2 separate regions of the Homo sapiens genome follow, and region 1 is linked to region 2. The links come from fine-mapping of genetic effects on gene expression. A gene starts in region 2. The other region holds a variant in brackets. All regions are shown on one strand. Distances are from middle to middle.

The links.
Region 1: its variant is fine-mapped to the expression of SLC46A3 in whole blood (INTERVAL, PIP 0.90).

The regions. Positions count from the first base shown.
Region 1 is chr13:28,751,332-28,754,245 of GRCh38, reverse strand. No RefSeq gene overlaps it. Among named protein-coding and RNA genes, the nearest start is that of SLC46A3, 34 kb to the right of the region's middle. RefSeq lists an enhancer at 157-902. The variant G/A (reference allele first, on the strand shown) is at 1,742.
Region 2 is chr13:28,717,608-28,720,521 of GRCh38, reverse strand. SLC46A3 (solute carrier family 46 member 3) reads left to right here and starts at 1,552. Exons shown (of 6, transcript NM_181785.4): 1 at 1,552-2,026; 2 at 2,500-2,712. The coding sequence starts at 2,524.

The sequences.
Region 1 (2,914 bases), 34 kb before region 2:
GTAGGAATGTATAGCCAAGGAGCAGGGTGGGGGTCGGTGGAGGGAAAATCACTAAGAGGGAACTTCAGGACTGAGAAAGACTTTAGCTAAACCAACAACAGGATTCTTGTTGAAGACAGGCCAGGAAACCAGACATCGCCTGGGGGCTGGTGGAGGGAGAAGAACCCAATCAGACATGAAGGTGATCAGATATTGTAGGTGGGGGATTCTTGCTTAACTGACTTAGCAGGGTTCTTTGCTAAAACTAGATTTTACAAGGAAGTGCATAGAAGGCCCTAGGAGAAGATTCCAGAGCCTGACTAAAGTTTGCCCAAGCAAATAATTTTTGCTGCAAACCGCCAGGCTTTCTTAGTAATCTTTATATTATTTGTCAAAAGCTTCAAAAAATTATTTCAACCAAGCGAGCCATTGCTAGTAACTGCTAAGGAGCTCTCTGCCCTGTCACCCGCCTTGCTTGTGGGTGGCAAGAGGTCCACATGGCCCACTGGTTCTACACTGTTTCTGCCAGCATGTGGCTGGCTTATAAACTACAGGCATGTGAGTACGCCAGGCAGTGACTCAGCACTTCCCTAACTGTAAAAGCCCAGAGGGAATATGCATTCCAATGTAGGAATGTCTGTGTCAATATCTGTAACATTCAGCATTTCTTTCTTTCGTCTTTCCTTTCCTTCTTTCCTTCCTCTTTCCTTCTTTCTTTCTCTTTCTTTCTTTCCTTTCTTTCCTTTCTTTTTCTCTCTTTCTTCCTTTTTTTCTCTTTCTTCCTTTTTCTTTTTTCTTTCTTTTTTTAGATAGGGTCTCTCTCTCTCTCTGGCCATCAATATTTTCTTTCTTTCTTTCCTTCTTTCCTTCTTTCTTTCTTTCTCTCTTTCTTTCTCTTTCTTTCTTTTCCTTCCTTCCTTCCTTCCTCCCTCCCTTCCTCCCTTCCTTCCTTCCTCCCTTCCTTCCTTTCTCTTTTTCTTTTTTCTTTCTTTTTTCAGATAGGGTCTCTCTCTCTCTGTGGCCCAGGGGCTGGAGTGCAGTGGCACCATCGTCACTCACTGAAGTCTCAAACTCCTGGACTCAAGCAATCCTCTGGCCTGAGCCTCCCAAGTAGCTGGAAACTACAGGTGTGCACCAACACACCCAGCTAACTTAAAAAAAATTTTTTTTTGGCCAGGTGTGGTGGCTCACGCCTGTAATCTTAGAACTTTGGGAGGCCAAGGTGGGTGGGTCACCTGAGGTCAGGAGTTCGAGACCAGCCTGACCAACATGGTGAAACCCCATCTCTACTAAAAATACAAAAAATTAGCTGGGCGTGGTGGCGGGCACCTGTAATGCCAGCTGCTAGGGAAGCTGGGGCAGGAGAATTGCTTGAACCGAGGAGGCAGAGGTTGCAGTGAGCTGAGATCGCACTATCGTACTCCAGCTTGGGTGACAGAGCGAGACTCCGTCTCAAAAAGAAGAAAAACAAATTTTAAAGATGGGGTCTTGCCCTGTTGTCTAGGCTTAGCATTATTTCTGAAGAAATATAGTGCTCATACTTTGAGAGAAGCACAATTAGTACTTACCTTGAACCAACAAATATGATTAAATGTTATAATAATTAAGAGATAAATAGAAATGCTGATTTCCTCATAATAAATAAATGTCCACATACTTTTTTTCAGAGACTTTTTCAATACAGGGAACTGAGATGAATGTAGAGTTTCTTGGAGGGTGAAAGAACAGTTAATAATGTCTGTTGAATTCTGAAACATTTGGC[G/A]ATTTCACAAAAGAGACTTTGTAGTGTCCTTGTGATAACTGTAAAATAAAGTAGGAAACAAACCTGAATAAATATATAGAAGAGAAAAACAAGTTACGGTAGGCTAAATATAAGATACAAGGTAATTCCTTTAAACTTTCAGTACAAAATATACCTCAGAACAAATAGAATGTACTGAGAACAGCCAAACAATCCTCATTTTAGATGTCAGAGCCATAGGATTTCTGGCACCCGGTCAGAATGCGCAGGAAAATGTTAGCATCTGAGAGATGGGTTATAAAGTGTTTGCAAGAACTAATGGAAGTCTCAAATTTATTTTGTCCCCGAAGAAGTTTGTTTTTTAGAGAATTTCTGGAAAATGACGTTAGGTCATTAGAAAAATAATAATTCCTGGGCGTTGCCCTGTTGACAGCCAACATAAATGCTGCATCTCCCTGGATCAAAGAAACTAGCCCTTCAAAGAAAAACTGGACAACATCAAGAATTAAATATTTCAAACTATGAGAGGAATACTTCCAAAAGAAGAGGAAAGTATAGGGTGTTTGGAAAGGAGGTGGCAGATTTCTTTAAATGCAGAGAATTTTTTAAATCATAATAATAAAATACCTGGTATCAACGGAGCATTTTGTATGTGCCAACACTATTTGCTAAGAGCTTTACACATGCAATTTCATTTTAGCCTCACAAAACTCCTCTGAAGGAAGTACTGGTATTGTCCCCATTGCCAGATGAGGAAACAGAAGCATAGAGAGGACATTTCCTTGCCTGAGGCCACAGATGTGGTCAGACAACATGGCCTGTACCGTCGGCTCTGCTCTGATGCCTTCTTTCTGGCCTATGCAGGGTACAATGCTTTTAACACTTGCAATGTCCCAAGCACCTTTCAAAGGACTTTACAGGTACTAACTCATTTAATGCACACAGCAATAGCCAATGAAAGATACACGATCAGCATCCCATTTTACAGATGAAGAAACTAATAGGCTGAGGGAGCTGTCCAAGATCACCCAGCTATGTGCCAGAGTGGGATTTGGACCTAGGCAATCTGAGCTCAGAAGCCAAAATCTGAATCATTTCACAATACCATATCTCATGCAGCAAGAAAGTTTCAGTCTTACATATATCGTTATGTCGTTTCCTTTCTTCCTTTTTCCCCTTTCTTTTTTTTTTTTT
Region 2 (2,914 bases):
CATTGCTTGAATCCGGGAGGCGGAGGTTGCAGTGAGCCAAGATCCTGCAACTGCACTCCGGCCTGGGTGACAGAGCGAGACTCCACCTCAAAAAAAAAAAAAAAAAAAAAGGACATCTTCTAAGTGCCGTTTAGAATAATATAGTACTTAGTACAAAGTACTGCAACTTAAAATATTATGTCTTCCTTGCAAACTGTATCTTACTCATGTTTGTTTATCTTCTTTCCAATATCCATGCTCCATTGTTTGAAACTCATAACAAGTGCTTCATAAATGCTGATTTGAAGAAGCTGGGAAGTAAGATTAAGTGGCAAGTCCAAGGTTACCAGCTACTAAGTATCAGTTAGGACTCAAACCTAAGACGTTTAACTCTGCATTCAGTGACACAACTGTCATTTAAGGAGTGCTGAGGAAGAGAAAGCAGCTCTGACATCCAGGTGCTGGAACTATCAGCTGGGCCTTGGTGTTGCTAAGAACTTTTCTGGACCATGGTGTTCTGTCGAATGAAAACAATTTCACGGAACACCAAAGTCAGACAAGAGCATTCTGTAACCATGATCAAGACAAAAACAAGACCACGTCATAATTTTGTCTGAACACGGACAAAATTTAGGCACTGTCTAAACCACAAAAATGACAAATATGTGTGACTGTTGCTTCTTTATCATTCATGGCTTTAGCCTCTGTCTAGTCTTGACTCCTAAATAAGACTTATTAAGATACCCAATCATAGAATTACTGCCATTTCCTGACAGCAACCAATCCAGAGTAAGGCCTTGCTTTCTTGAACTCTTCCCAAAATCACATAACGCAAGCCCATAGTAAATTCTAACACCTTCTTACTGAGATGCCCCCACGGTTCCTCATGCATGCATTTCTCCTGGCTTCAAGAAGTAGTAGCTCAATTCTTTTACTACAAGTTGTTCCTGGTGGGTGTGTTGGAGAGCACTGACAACTCCTCCTATGTCCAGGGGCTGTGTTGTGTATACATGCTGAGTGTTTAATTAGACAACCCTGTAAGACTTATCATCCCCACGTGGCAGATAAAGACATGGAGGTTCATGAAAATTTAACGATTTGCCCAAGTCCCCCCTCCCCTCCCCAGGAAAAGCCAGCGACCACATTCCAACCCTCCGCTAACTCTGCATTGAGCACTCTCTTTCCTATGCCCTCCACCTGCGCCCATTCCCCTCTTCTGCGGGCCGACCGGGATCCTGCTGGGGGCTACAGCCCAAACATGTTACTTTTCCAACTGTTGTTTTATGTGTTTCTATGAGAAAGGATATTCGGATTCAGAAATGCTTTGCAACTCCAGAGCTGTTGAGCCTGCGGCGCGGCCCACCACTCAACAGCGGTGCTGAGTGGCTGCTCGGTCGCGCGGGATCCACTCCGGGCCTCCGAGGGTGGGTGCACGATCCACTAGCCACTCTCCAGGGGAGAGTGACGTCCGGGTGGACCAATCGCCGCTGGGGCACCGACCGCTGGGCCCAATCGCAGGAGAGCCGGGTAGAACAGTGACAGCGCCGCGGCAGCCGACCCCGCCTCCTCGGCGGACAGCGATGCTCAGCTGGCTGCGGCCGAGTCATCGCCTAGCGCTGGCAGGGCCGCTGACCGACCGACGGAGGCGCCGATTGGCCGATTGTCCACTGCGCAGAAGGAGCAGCTGCTCCGCGCCCCGCCGCGCCGCGCTGAGGCCGAGGTCCGCAGGGCCGCGGGGAAGCCGAGGGCTGCCGGAGAACCCTGCAGGTGTCACTCGGGACGCGGAAGTGCGCTTGCCGAGGTTTGCTTTACAATACGCTTGAGACTCCCCGACAAGCGTAATTTGGTCGAGTTCGACGGGAAAGTACTCTCCCCACCCCAGCGCCGGCCGCGTAGTCCGAGGTTACTGTCCCCGGCGCGTCCTCTGTTGCCCCAGTCCAGAGGCTGCCCTTGAACCCGGGCGCGCACGAGCGCAGGGCATCCGAGGCGACAGCCCCTGGCACGGCCCGACCTGTACCCAGCCTGGCAGGAAGACTGTAATCGTGGGGTGAGTTAAAAATAAGGCCCTTTCGATTGGGAGCTGCTTTTTAAAACGCCCCCTCCCTGTCCGTTTTTAATACGCAGCAAAATAACAATAACAATTGTGCAACTGTCGCTTCCCAAAAGGAACCTCATTGTTGAACTTACGAAAAATCAGTTGGCAATATACAGTGTGGGAACTGTACTGTGATCATTGGCTAACCAAGATGGGTGACAGTTTATGATTTCAAAGACTCAAAGGCGGCTTGAGTCCTACAATGTCCTACTCATAAAAATGGAAAGCATGGCAGCCTCAGGTTGTTACAGAGTACTCTACTCCAAAGTAAAAGTTATTCTCTGAGAAAGTGCTTACTGCCTTTTCTGTTCTCTAGTTTGCTTGTTTAAACATTTACTCCACAAAATTGCTCAAACTTACCCATCTTTGAATATCTAGCCTCTGGGATGAGACAGATGATCTTTCTCCGTTTTCACTTTTTATAGAATACAGCTACCTACCCAGGCAATATGAAGATTTTATTTGTAGAACCTGCCATTTTCCTTAGTGCATTTGCTATGACTTTGACCGGTCCACTGACAACGCAATATGTTTATCGGAGAATATGGGAAGAAACTGGCAACTACACTTTTTCATCTGATAGCAATATTTCTGAGTGTGAAAAAAACAAAAGCAGCCCAATTTTTGCATTCCAGGAGGTAAGAAATTACAATATCCATAGTATTTAATAAAATGGGAATGTATACCGGGCTTTGAGTTAAAGAGGACCGTGAACTCATCATCCATTGGTCTCTCTAGGGCGGCCATCAAAGTCCTAAATCCCAAACCTAATGGCCTTTACTGGGAACTCACCTCATTTGAAGTTTCCTGACACCTTTCAAATCTGCCTCTTCTTCTTAA